Linked DNA regions of Homo sapiens. The protein of the gene in region 1 interacts with the protein of each later gene in a pairwise test. Each region holds a gene or a part of one and is shown in the gene's direction. Other genes may lie near its edges. The genes, in order: PKNOX1, KIF1A, SYNM and TTC3.

Evidence for each region.
Region 2: the proteins of PKNOX1 (region 1) and KIF1A interact in a two-hybrid assay, tested with the Homo sapiens proteins (one large-scale study listed by BioGRID and IntAct).
Region 3: the proteins of PKNOX1 (region 1) and SYNM interact in a two-hybrid assay, tested with the Homo sapiens proteins (one large-scale study listed by BioGRID and IntAct).
Region 4: the proteins of PKNOX1 (region 1) and TTC3 interact in a two-hybrid assay, tested with the Homo sapiens proteins (one large-scale study listed by BioGRID and IntAct).

The regions. Positions count from the first base shown.
Region 1 is NC_000021.9:42,981,025-42,984,594, forward strand, and holds part of PKNOX1 (homeobox protein PKNOX1), read left to right. Parts: intron 1-3,570. UniProt on the Homo sapiens protein: Activates transcription in the presence of PBX1A and HOXA1.
Region 2 is NC_000002.12:240,713,197-240,716,243, reverse strand, and holds the end of KIF1A (kinesin-like protein KIF1A), read left to right. Parts: 3' UTR 1-2,477; downstream 2,478-3,047.
Region 3 is NC_000015.10:99,111,535-99,115,104, forward strand, and holds part of SYNM (synemin), read left to right. Parts: intron 1-2,056; coding exon 2,057-2,181; intron 2,182-3,570. UniProt on the Homo sapiens protein: Type-VI intermediate filament (IF) which plays an important cytoskeletal role within the muscle cell cytoskeleton.
Region 4 is NC_000021.9:37,076,194-37,079,763, forward strand, and holds part of TTC3 (E3 ubiquitin-protein ligase TTC3), read left to right. Parts: intron 1-3,570. UniProt on the Homo sapiens protein: E3 ubiquitin-protein ligase which catalyzes the formation of 'Lys-48'-polyubiquitin chains. Mediates the ubiquitination and subsequent degradation of phosphorylated Akt (AKT1, AKT2 and AKT3) in the nucleus.

The DNA.
Region 1 (3,570 bases):
GGGGAACCCAAAGCCTAACAGTGTGTGTCCTTGGAGGTGAGGGTGAAGGAAGTGGCTGCAGGCCCTGGGAAGTACCATCTTGCATCCGTGTGCAGCACTGAGTGGATACCTCATGGTTCTGTCTTGTGTACACTGTTCAGGAGGACATGTAGAGTGGACATATCACATAGAAGAAGGTCAGTCTGGAAACTGTTAGGAGAAGCACTCAAGGGCTGAGAGGCATGGTCCTTGGTGGAAAGAGCCAGCAGGCCTGGTGCTGGCGGTGCCCTGCTCGTGACAGTGTGCAAAGTCTGGAGCCTGGCCTGTTCCCGCCCTTGGCAGATGGTAGCTCCTTGTTTTGGATTATTAGCCCCTGCCGGTTTAGTTACTGTTTCTGGAAGATTCACATAGAAGGCAGTGTGGTAATTCAGTCAACGTGTTGTCTGGCATGTGGTATAAAACTCCTGTTTAAAGCTCTGATTCTGAGGCCATGCCTCAGGGACTTGAGAAGGGGACAGAGCAGCTTATTTTATTTTATTATTTATTTTATTTAATTTTAATTTTATTTTATTTTGAGATAGGGTCTCACTTTTTCACCCAGGCTGGAGTGCAGTGGCACGATCTCGGCCCACTGCAGCCGGGAGCTTCTGGGCTCAAGTAATCTTCCCGCCACAGCCCCCAAAGTAGCTGGGATTACAGGCACGTGTCATCACACCCAGCTAATTGTACTGTTTGCCGTCTGCGATTGACGCTGGAATGATTGGCTGTTTTAGTCGGGTTCTCAGGGTGGCAGGGAGCAGGCTGACTTCAAGTTGGGTGGGTGGTGAGATAGGTGGTTCAGGATCATGCAGGGATAAAGAAAACAGGAGTCTATGGGATTCTTGGGACCACTGTATTGTTGCTGGGCCTCTGGGCAGATGGAACCATGGTTTGTGCTCTGGCAGGATCCAGTTCTGCACCAGGGCTCTTGGCCTTCCGCTTCAATTAGGTGGTTGCCCTCCACTGTCTGTTCCATCTGTACGCTCCCCTCACAGTGGGGGCTCACCCAGCCTTACCTGCCCTGTACTCTCCCTTTTCCAGCACCCACCTCAGAGAGAGTGCCTGTGCTCTTTCCCCTCACACCACCTACCAGGCGCTGACCTTCGGGCTGGGGGCTGGCCTTGGGTGTTGCAGGGCTACCTGGCCCAGGGAGTGGTGCTTGGGGAGGAATGAGCTTCTGACACCTGCACAAGGAAGGCCCCCTTTGAGCAGGGCCTGCCAGTGGGGTTGGGTCACTCAAAGGGGCTGTGGATTGGTAGGTACTATGATCACAGTTTCCAGAACATAATGCCTGAGTGAGCGCATGTGTTTTGTTACATGTTCTCTCAGACATTTTATGAAGGTTTGTACATTTTTTTGCATTAAAAATGTTAGGAATTTAACTTGACAAGAAAAAGGAGCATAAGGCCGGGTGCAGTGGTTCACGCCTGTAATCCCAGCACTTTGGGAGGCCAAGGTGGGTGGATCACCTGAGGTCGGGAATTCGAGTCCAGCCTGAACAACATGGAGAAACCCTGTCTCTACTAAAAATACAAAAAATTAGCCGGGTGTGGTGGTGCATGCCTGTAATCCCAGCTACTTGGGAGGCTGAGGCAGGAGAATCACTTGAACCCAGGAGGTGGAGGTTATGGTGAGCTGAGATCGCGCCATTGCACTCCAGCCTGGGCAACAAGAGCGAAACTCCATCTCAAAAAAAAAAAAAAAAGTTTAATAAACATTAAATTGCTAAACTTTACGTTCTTCTAAATTTAGTTACGTATTTGAGCATACTTTTTTTTCCCCCACGAAACAGGGGCTTGCTCTGTTGCCCAGGCTGGAGTGCAGTGGTGCAATCTTGGCTCCCTGCAACCTCTGCCTCCCGGGTTCAGGCAATTCTCCTGCCTCAGCCTACTGAGTAGCTGGGATTACAGGTGCCCACCACCACGCCTGGCTAATTTTTGTATTTTTAGTAGAGATGGAGTTTTACCATGTTGGCCAGGCTGGTCTCGAACTCCTGACCTCAGATGAGCTGCCCACTGTTGCCTTTCAAAGTTCCAGGATTACAGGCATGAACCACTGTGGCTGGCCTTTTTTTTCCAATTTTTTGTTATGGTAAAATACACGTAACAAAATTTACCATCTTAACCATTTTCAGTGTGCAGTTCAGTGGTGGTAAGTTCATTCATACTTTTGTACAGCCATCACCACCATCTGTCTCCAGAACCCTTCATCTTGTAAAACTGAAACTCTATACCCATTAAACACTGCCTCCCCATCTCCCCTCCCTGAAGCCCCTGGCAACCACCATTCTACTTCCTGTCTCTGAATTTCGCTACTATAGGGACTTCATACCAGTGGAATTAGGTAGTATTTGTCTTTTTGTGACCAGCTTAGCTCATTTACCATAATGTCCTTAAGGTTCATCTATGTTGTAGTGTGTGTCAGAATTTCCTTCCTTTTTAAGGCTGAATACTCCATTGTGTGGATATACTGAATTTTGTTTATCCATCCCTCAACAGACACTTGAGTTCCTTCTACCTTTTGACTATTTTGAATAATAAAACTGTGAACCTGAGTGTGTAAATACTTCTCCGAGATCCTACTTTCAATTTTTTTGGATATAGATCTAGAAGTGGGATTGCTGGATCATACTGGAATTCTGTTTTTAATTTTTTAGGGAACCTCCATCCGATTTTTCGCAGCAACTGTACTGTTTTATATTCCTTTTAATTTAATTTATTTTTTATTTTTCCAAGGACTCAATAAGGAGAGAGTATCAGTTTACATTCCTACCAACAGTACAGAGGTTCCAGTTTCTCCGTATCTTACCCAACACTTATTTTCTTATGTGTTGTTGCTTTTTTTAATAGCAGCCATCCTAATGGATTTGAGGTGGCATCTTACTGTCATTTTGATTTGTATTTCCCTAATAATTAGTGATGTGGAGCATCTTTTCACATGTTCATCGGCCATTTACATGTCTTTGGAGAAATATCTCTTCAAGTCCTTTGCCCCTTTTTGAATTGGGTTTCTTACATGCATACGTGTGTGCGTGTGTGTGCGTGTGTGTGTGTGTGTGTGTGTGTGTTTTAAAGAGACAGGGTCTCATGATGTTGTCCAGGCTGGTCTCCAACTCCTGGGCTCAAGTAATCCAGTAATACTCCTGCCTCAGCCTCCCAAGGAGCTGGGACTTAAAGACATGGGCCCCTGTGCCTGGCTATGTTCATACGTTTTTACATATTTTTTAAGCTATATTGTGTTATGCTTTTAGTTGGCATTTTAGTGATTTTTAAAACATTTATATAATCCACACATTTCTCGTTTTAAAAATTTAAGGTCTCATACACTTTTGTGAGTCCAGTTTTTTTCTTTTTCTTTTTTTTTGAGACAGAGTTTTGCTCTTGTTGCTCAGGCTGGAGTGCGATGGCATGATCTTGGCTCACCACAACCTCCACCTCCTGGGTTCAAGCAATTCTCCTGCCTCAGCCTCCCAAGTAGCTGGGATTACAGGCATGTGCCACCCCGCCTGGCTAATTTTGTATTTTCAGTAGAGACAGGGTCTCTCCATGTTGT
Region 2 (3,047 bases), on another chromosome or scaffold:
CCAGGGCAGAGAGTTTCTGTGAGTCCCACTGAGAAAATCCCATGGGGTGGGGGTATCCTGGTCGGTCGGCAATGGAGGGTGGCTGGCTTGGTGGTTATTGTCTTCAAGGAGCTCTTCGCTGCTGCATCTGCGGTGTCCCTTTGTTCTTGTCCCATTTCACCCCCTCTGCAGACACCAATGTCCGAGGGCCACCCAGGACAGGACGGGGGTCAGCCCCAAGCTGAGAGTCTGGTCATAGGAGTCATGTCCAGAGGCCTAGGGAGGTTTTAGGGCCCTCCCCACCCACACCCACAGGTCGATTTGGTCTCTTTTTAGCTCAAGGAAAGACAGTAGCCAAGCAACAGAGCCCCTCTCCCGCCGTGGCCCGTGGGAGCAGTTACATCGGGTCTGGTGCTCCAGACCTAGGGCCCAGCACTTTCATCAGATCCTGCCTCCTGGAGTGGGGGAAACGCAGCACCCCACTGGTTCTGAGGCCCCTACCCTCCCAGGCTGTCCCACGTGATGCTGACATGAGCCTCAGAGACCCCAATCCCATGCCTGGGGGAGAGACAGCGGCTCAGGAGTGGGGGAGCACGGGCCTTCTACACCACATGGGAAGGCTCTGGCATGAGGTTTTCCTTTGGGAAGGTTGTTTGGGCCCCTGAAGTTCCATCTCCGAGAGTGGTGTGCAGGGCAGGCCAGGGCCCATGCTGGCTGCAGTCTCTGTGGCTGCCTGCCTGGGCCAGCCTGTTTGGGAGCTGGGACTGTGGGCTCGCCTTTTCGTACCTGGGCTCAGGTGCGGTGTGGCCACCGCCACCCTCATCCCCTGCCTGGGAGGCTCTCCCAGGGGCTGATGGGGGGGTTCTGTGAGGGAGAATCAGGGCTCGGGAAGCCACGCCTGGGAAGGCAGGACACAGGACACAGCAGCTTTCTTTGGAAATCTCCCAGGTGAGGATTCACATCCCAAAATAAAATTCAGAAGCCAGGTGGCCTGTGCTCCCCATGGGTGACCTCTGGAGGCAGTGGACCAAGATGCAGCAAGGAGAGGATGCAGAACAGCTTCTTGCAGAAGCACCTGCTCCGGCATCCAGCGCTGCCTGGAGGCAGGAAGGAGAGGCAGGGCAGGACACGCTGGTCTGAGATGAGGGGGAGCCCCACGGGCCCCAGGCAGGCTAGAGGAGGCACAGGCCCTGCCACGGCCAACTCAGGTCAGCCAGCCTGAGGCTGTGGCCTCCAAAGGGTCTGGGCGCACCCCCCAGGTCGCAGGTGTCTGAGGCCAGCCAACCTGCAGAGCACTCGCGGCGTGGGTGGGCTGAGTGGAGGTGCCTGGGAGCTGCCTAAATTCAGAAGCCTCCACTGCCATGGAGACTGCCTGGCTGTGTCCTCTCAGCCAGGTGCCGTGTTGGCCTTGGCTAGGACCCAGAGCCACACTGCAGCCTCCGCCGACTCCCTCCTTCCGGGCCTGCTCTAGTGAGGAGTGCCTAAGCCAGGACCCAGAAACTCAGAGTTGATGGTGAGAGGAGGCCGCCTGAGTCAGGACACCTGGCTTCTTGAAAAGTTCGCTCTGCCAGAAACCACCTAGGGACCACGTTAGCTGCCTTCCTTGAGCTCCCCAGGAGTCGGTTTCCACATCTGTGAGGTGGAGGGCTGGTGTGGAGGTGCTCATGGGGTGCGGTGCTTGGGAGACAGCCAGGCCCAGGGTGGCTGCTGCTTCCTGCTAAGTGGGGGAGGTGAGACAGATCTGGAAAGCCGTCTCCCTCAGATGGTTTCATTTAATGCTTTATACTGCCGAGTCTGGGGGCTTGTTTTGGTTTGGGGGCAGCCATCCTCCACCAGAAAGGGGGAGCTCCTTCCGCTGCGGCTCCAGATAGATGGGGATGCCGGGCTCCAGGCCGACCAGCACTTGGGATCTGATGGGACACGGCCAGTGCCTAGGGGTGCCAAGTCCAAGGCCTCCCACTGGGAGTCATCGCTGAGAAGATGCCAATGTTTCATCCACCGGCTGCACAGGCACAAACTCCCCCACCCAGGACGGCTGTGATGAGGTGGCCCTCCCTGTCAACCCTGGTCCCTGGAGTCCCCAGCACCTGGGGCCCTGGTGGGGCTGATGTCACAGGTGTTTACTGTGCTGCTGCACTGGTCCTATGCCAGCCTCACCCATGTGGGGACCACGGAAGGCACACTCCCTTACCCCCGGTGCCGGGCCGTGCGGTCCCCCAGACGGACAGCAGCTGTGGCGACCTGCGTTTCTCCCTGGGCCTGTGCTTCCTGTAGTTAGTCCGTCCCCTGGTTCCCCTGTGGCTCAGAGGCCGCGTCCCTGGCTTGTACATATGTGATTGCTGTGGGCACACCCCAGACCCCATGTCATAGCTGCCGTCCCGACGTCACGACGCCTGTCCCGATGTCTTACACCCGAGTGTTAGCCCTAGGCTCCTGTACTGTGCGTGCACTTGAGGCTCTGTCCAATTAAGAAATAAATGTGGCTCTTACTCAACACAGTCCCATGGGCTCTGCTGTGGCTTTATTTGCGTGTTACGTGTGTTGCAGGGCCCCGGAAAATGGCTGTAGGTGCATGCATCCAGCGTGGTCCAGAGACAGTACCCCTCTCCCAGTGATGAGGCAGGGAGGGGCTGGCTCTCGAGGTGGGCATGGGGAGGTGGTGGGGAAGGTGTCGAAGACTGAGTGTACACAGGGTGCTGGTCTTGGAGGATCAACCTCCACCTGCCTCCCGTGACCGGTTGCACCCCTGTGAACCAGCCCCAGGCACCTCCCCAGGGACACAGCACCTACCACCCTCATACCAGGCCACTGCACCCATCCCAGGCAGCCTCAGGCCTGGACCCTTCAGAGTCTCTAGTCCATGGGGTCTGCGCCTGGGCCCAGATCCTCAGAGCCTCCTGGAGTTCCAGAGGCCGCACCATTGCACACGAGGGCCTTAGTCTTGTCCAAGGTATGGCAGGAGTTTGTGGACCAGCGTCACACTGATGGCCGATGGGAGGATGGGGTGACAGCCTTGCACTTTGGGGGACTCTGGGCAGGGCCCCCAGTCCTTAGGAGCCCCCAGGCCC
Region 3 (3,570 bases), on another chromosome or scaffold:
CTGTTTGTAATGCCAGCTGTGGGATCTGTTATCGTTTTTCCACCCTGGGACATAAGCCAGTGATTTTTAAGTTTACTTCTTTGCTTTAAAAGCTAAGGGGTTTTAAACTACTTCAGGACCCTTTATATTCAGGGAACCTAACAGCCATCATTGGCATAGAAATAGAACTGTTATGAGAAGTGGGAATATTTATTGGCTGATCATGCATTTTAAAAAATGATAAATTCTGGCTGGGTGCAGTGGCTTGTGCCTATAATCCCAGCACTTTGCAAGGCTGAGGCGGGAGGATCACCTGAGGTCAGGAGTTCAAGACCATCCTGGCCAACGTGGTGAAACCCCGTCTCTACTAACAATACAAAAATCAGTTGGGCGTGATGGCAGGCGCCTGTATACAGTCCCAGCTACTTGGGAGGCTGAAGCTGGAGAATCACTTGAACCTGGGAGGTGGAGGCTGCAGTGAGCCGAGATTGTGCCATTGCACTCCAGCCTCGGTGACAGAGCGAGACTGTCTCCAAAAACAAACAAAACAACCAAAAAGATAAATTCCATGTGCAATCTTGTAGAGTTCATTCCTTGGTTTCACAGACATATTTATTATGGACCCTCAGCATCTTGCCGGGTGCCTTTGGTGAAGGGATTCCAGCAGCAATGAACATAATATTCCCTCTCCCAGTAGTCTTACCGTTTTTGAATTCTACAAAGATAAATGTTTATAGGTCTAGCTTAGTTTAGTTAATGATGTTCAGAAATAATGCTACTTCCCATTACAAACCAGAAGTTAAAAGTACATGGACTTATTTCAATGTTTAAATACTTGCTTGGTTAATTGTTCCCCAGAGTAACTAACAACTAGGAATAAAACAAAACTGGAAATCGGTGCAGCTGAAGCCCATATGTTTGTTTGAGAAGATACTGTCGACTTCAAATAGTACATTTTGAGGAGGGTGATATGATCTTGATCATTTCATTTTAAATTTAATTGAGCAGCTATGTGCTGTGTGACTTGTATGTGGTGGGCACTGGTCTAGGTCTGGGATTCAGAAGGCCGCAGTATCTCCCTGCCAGGTAGAGAGGCAGGTCGGGGACCCGGCCAGGGGTGAGGGGAGCTGCGAGGAGCACCCAGGACGCCCTTACTAGCTGCACTGTGCAATTACGGTTCATAAAGCAGTTTTATTTATTTTTATTTTATTTTTTGAGGTGGAGTCTCGCTCTGTCGCTCAGGCTGGAGTGCAGTGGCATGATCTTGGCTCACTGCAACCTCCGCCTACTGAGTTCAAGTGATTCCTGTTCCTCAGCCTCCTGAGTAGCTGGGATTACAGGTCTGCGCCACCATGCCCAGCTATTTTTTGTATTTTCAGTAGAGACAGGGTTTTGCCATATTGGCCAGGCTGGTCTCGAACTCCCGACCTCAAGTGATCCGCCCGCTTCGGCCTCCCAAAGTGTTGGGATTATAGGTGTGAGCCACCACGCTAGGCCCAAAAAGAAGTTTTATATCTGAGTCTGTAGTTTGTCATTTATGCCCAGAATGCATTTCTCCCCAGATGATCTTAAAGTAGCTTTTCTAAGTGAAACAAAACTCTGTATCAGTTTACCTGCTTATTGTTGGAGAAATCATGACTTTGGGGAGTACATTTCAGTTCAATTCTGAGTGACTTATGTTTTGAATATTGTAAAACCCCTGATTTCTAGTCTTGGCTTATTTTCCATAGCGTCTTAGTGACTGGTTTGAAGCACTGGCTCTCCTAAGCAGCCTGATGTCTAAACGGTAGAGATGATTTGAATAAACTCCTAAGCATTCATTATTAATAGAGAGTCTGAACAGAGAAGCCAGTGTCCTATCAAAATGTTCCACATGCAATAAAAAACTTCCATATGGAAGAGATACAACATTGGAAACCATCCTGCAAGTGACTGCATGTTTAATAACGCCGGGTGTTTTTCTGGTCTGCTAATAACCCTGGTCTGTTTTTCAATTCGATCCTGAATTGTTGGTACCTTCAGTTCGACCCAGTAAAGCTCCAGTTCTCTGATATAAAAGTCTGTCTATTCTCTTTAGAGAGTGATTGACTGCCTGGAGGATGAGAAGGCAACCCTCACCTTGGCCATGGCTGACTGGCTGCGGGACTATCAGGACCTCCTGCAGGTGAAGACCGGCCTCAGTCTGGAGGTGGCGACCTACCGGTAAGGAGACTGTGCTGAGTTGGCCTTGACGAAGCCATGGGGGTGTAACTTGCACATGAAGGAAACTGGTCTAGGGACCGTAGCCTTTGTGGAGTCACTGTGGCTTTGTGACAAGCAGAGAGCAGCCCTTGGCATGGCCAGGCAAGGAGTCCGAGGCCAAAAGGAAGAGGAAGAGTAGGGCTTGCTTAGGTCACTGAGCAGGTGTCTCCAGCAAGGGAGTAGCTGAGCCGTGCCCCCTTACCTAGTGTTTGTATGTTCTGGGGACTGCTGAAGAGCTTCACACATGTCAACGTGTTGGATCCTAGGAACTGGAGACTGTGTTTACAGATGAACAGACTTTGCTCAGAGAAGTTACAGAACTGGAAAGTGGAGGGCCAGGATGTGTTAGTGTGTTTTCACACCGCTATAAAGATCCTACCTGAGCCTGGGTAATTTACAAAGGAAAGAGGTTTAATTGACTCACAGTTATTCCGCAGGGCTGGGGAGGCCTCAGGAAACTTACAATCGTGGCGGAAGGCAAAGGAGAAGCAAGAACCTTCTTCAGAAGGTGGCAGGAGAGAGAGAGAGCTCAGGGGAAACTGCCACTTTTAAAGCATCAGATCTCATGAGAACTCACTCCCTATCATGAGAACAGCGTGGGGAAAATTGCTCCCATGATCCAGTCACCTCCCACCAGGTCCCTCCCTCAACACGTGGGGGTTACAAATCGAGATGAGGTTTGGGTGGGGACCCAGAGCCAAACCGTGTCACAGGATTTGGACCCAGGAAGTCTGTGTCTATCTGCTTGATTGTTGCTTTGAATCTCAGGGCTCTGATGCCACCCTGTGTGGGTTTGGCCCTGAACTGAATCTCTTCCAAGAGATTAGCATGGTGCATGCTAATGTAGGCCAACTGGCTTTATGTATCAAGATGTTGACTTGAGTTCAAGGTAACCAACTCTGATGAAAAGGTCACAAAGCGCTCAAAGGGGCTGGGTGCTGGGTGGGGCAGAGAATGCAGTCCAGTCCCCCTGGGTGTGGCCTGCAGGCCGGCGGAACAGTGCTCCTCCCCTCCTTGGCATCACCCTCCTTTCCCCTGGGTGCCAGTGCGTCTTTGATTGAGGTGGTGCCCCTTGTTTCCTGGCAGCTCTCATGCTCAGGGCAGCTATGAAGGAGCCAGGGTCTGTGACGCTTACAGTGGAAGGAATTTTAGAGACCCAGTTGCCCAACTTCAGGAACACTAACAATAGCCAGCTTTATGGCGTCCTTACTGCCTGCCAGACGTGGTGCTGAGTTCTTTGCCACTATTCTCTGCTCCGAGTCAACTCTGAGGTGGGCACCACTCTCCCCTCTTAGAGGTGAGAGAGAGAGGCCGGGAGGTTGGGGCTGCAGGCTGGTGAGGGGCAGAGCC
Region 4 (3,570 bases), 5.9 Mb from region 1:
GTATAGTTTCCTGGGACTTGCTTATTTCACTTGATGTTATGTTTCTGAGTTACTAATATTGGGTATAGATGTAAGTCATTAATTTTCACTGCTGTGTAATATTCCAAGTGTGAATATAACACAGTGTATGCATTCTTCTGTTAATGGGCATTTTGGTTGTTTCTAGGTTTTGCTGTTATGAAGTTATATACTTTTTGGTTCACAGTTGTAAGAATTTTTCTAATTTTCACACTGGGGTATATGAGCCCCAGAGGAGTAATGAAGATTTGCTAAGGAATGTGTGGGTACAAATGATGTTAATGAATCAGTTTCTAGATCATTACATTCCATAGGTACTCTTTCCTAAAAATGGTAATGCCTGAGGCCTCCTGCTAGTGCTACTTTCTTACCTTGTGTTTCTAACATTGCACTTTACATAAGACAGGCAAACCACAGGTTCTTGTGGAATCTTACTATGGCATTGCCCAAAGGGGGAAAACTCCCTTGGGGAAAACAAAGGGATTTTTTTTTTTTTTTTTTTTTTTTTTGAGTGAAGTTTTGCTCTTTTTGCCCAGGCTGGAGTGCAATGGCACGATCTCGGCTCACTGCAACCTCTGCCTCCCAAGTTCAAGTGATTCTCTTGCCTCAGCCTCTGAGTAGCTGGGATTACAGGCGCGCACCACCACACCCGGCTAATTTTGTATTTTTAGTAGAGACGGGATTTCACCATGTTGGCTAGGCACGTCTTGAACTCCTGACCTCAGGTGATCTGCCCGACTCGGCCTCCCAAAGTGCTGGGATTACAGGCCACCGCGCCTGGCCTACAAAGGGATAATTTAAAATACCACTATAGTGTTAGGGAAAGCCTCTTTTAATCCTGGCACTTCCCCATCCATTTCCTTAAGAGAGATATTTCCAATAAAGTTGCTTTTTTTTTTATGTTATCAGGGTATATTTTTTGGCCAACCATATGCTGGTAATAATTATACATTTAAAAGAATGAGATAATCAGTTTTACTTTAAAATGTTACTGTGATGTTCTAGAAATTCACCCTTTGCAATTATTTAATCTTATGGTGATATTTTTTAAATGTCATCTTAATGGGTAAAGGGTATGCAATTTTAAAAAGCACTTTTGGTGGTTTGCGAGCAAAAAAAAAAGGTTGAAATACCACCATGTTAATTTGTTCAGCAGCAAAAGAAAAAGAAAAGAGAAAGAAATACTGCCGTATCACTATAGTAAGCTGTTTGCTAGAAATGGGATTGCTAGATCAAGGGGTATGAATGATCAGCTTTACAAAATAATGTCAGATTACTTTCTGAAGGGGTTGTATCAGTTTGTACTTTGGCCAGCAGTTTTGTCTGTTTATATACTTTGATCAACAGTGTGTAAGAGTTACAGTTGATCTACAACCTCTCCAACACTTGTTATTGTCAGACTTAATATTTGCCAATGGAATGGGTATGAAATGATGCATCATTGTGGTTTTAATTTGCATTTTTTGTTATTAATGAGATTGAGCATCTTTTGTATGTTTATGAACTGTCTTTGTTTCCTTTTTATGAAATATCTAGTCATATATTTTACCCTTTGTTCTGATGAGTTGTCTTTTAAAACTGGTAACATCGATTATGTGCGTTGTAAATATCTTTTTCTGGTTTGTGGCCTGTCTTTCTACTGTTTATGGTGTATTTTGGTGAACAGAAGTTCTTAATTTTAACATAATCTGATTGGAACCTTTCTTGCCCTGGGCTTATAAAGACATTCCTCTGTTTCTTTTTAGAGGTTTTAAAATGATGTCTTCCACATTTAAGTTCATAATTTATCTGGAATTGATTTTTGTGTATGTTCTGAGATAGTGATCCACATTGATTTTTTTTTTCTCCTGTGTGGTTCTAATTATCCCTGTACCATGTATTGAATTGGCCCTCTGTTCACCAGTGGTCTGCTGTGCCATCTCTTTTACATGTTTAGTTACTACCTGCATGGGTCTGTTTTTGGCTTGCCTTTCTGTGTCACTTGTCACCTTGTCTGTCTCTGTGTTCATACCACACTGTCTTAATCATTAATACTATAGTTTTACCTGAAATCTCGGTATCTGGGGAGGACTTGAATCTCACCTATTTTTGGTCATTTGTTCTTAAGAATTAGCTTGTTACATGACATGAAAAACCCTGTAGGTATTAATTAGAATTAATTGAATCAGTTTGGGGGAGAATCGAAATCTTTAAGATTTTGATCCTTTTTATTTTTAAGAATATGGTATGTATCTCTATTTATGTAAAGTTTTAGTGTAGTTTTGTAATATTCTCCATAGAGGTCTTCCACTTTTTCATATGTTAATTCTGATGTTATTGTTTTTGTTGCTATTATAAATGGTGGTGTTCTTAAAGATTCTATCTTAACTTATTTATTGTTAGTAAATATTTTAACTTATTGTTAAATAGAAATTTAATGAATTTTTAAAAATATTGACCCTTTAGTCATCCACTTGATAAACTTACTACTTCTAATATTTTTTCTGAAATTCCTTTGTGTTTTCTGTGTGGATAATTATATCATTTGCAAATAGTGACAGTTTTAGTTCTTCTAGTTATTTTTGCTTTTAATTTATTCATTTTTTTGGTCTTAAATGTGCTGGCATACTTTATACTTACGTTCAATGGAAGTGATTAGGGTTGTTCATTAGAAGCGATTATAGTGGGCATAGAGTTCTTGTTCTCAATTTTAAAGAGAATATTTCTCAGCTGAGAATAACATTTGCTGTGAATTTTTGTAGATACCTTTGATTAAGTTAGGGAAGTCTTTTCAGTTGTCACATGCTTTTCTGCATTTGTTGAGAATATCTTGTGTCTTTTCTTCTTTAATCTGTTAAATGTAATGAATTCCGTTTTATAGATTTAAAACTGTTCATTTTCTTTTATATTCTTTCTTGAGATAAACCCAAATTGGTCTTTATAGATTATATTTTTATGAACTACTAGATTGAGTTTGCTCATATTTTATTTAGATTTTTGTGTCTGTTTATGGCTAGAATCACTTCTCATTTTTCTTTATTGGCTGTCTTATCTGACTTGGGTATTAAAGTTACACTGACTTTATACCATGAGTTAGAGAATAGTTCCTCTTTTTCTGTTCCCTGGGAGAGTTTGGATTGGAGTGATTTGTTTCTTAAAAGCTTGGTGGAACTTAACTATAAGGTCATTTGGATCTAATGTTTTCTTCTTGGAGGTTTAGTAGTAATTAGCAGTTGAACAGTCATAGGACTGTTCAGGTATTCTATTTCTTTTAGTCAGTTTTGGTAAGTTTTAGAAATTTGTCCTTTCATCAAGTTTATGGTATGGTTTTTTTTTTTTTTTTTTTTTTTTTTTTTTTTTTAAGATAGAGTCTCCCTCTGTTGCCCAGGCTGGAGTAGTGCAGTGGTGCCATCTCATTGCAACCTCTGCCTCCTGAGTTCAAGCGATTCTCCTGCCTCAGCCTCCTGAGTAGCTGGGATTACAGCCGTGCGCCACCATGCTTGGCTGATTTTTTTGTATTTTTAGTAGAGACGGAGTTTCACCATGTTGGCCAGGCTCTTCACAAACTCCTGA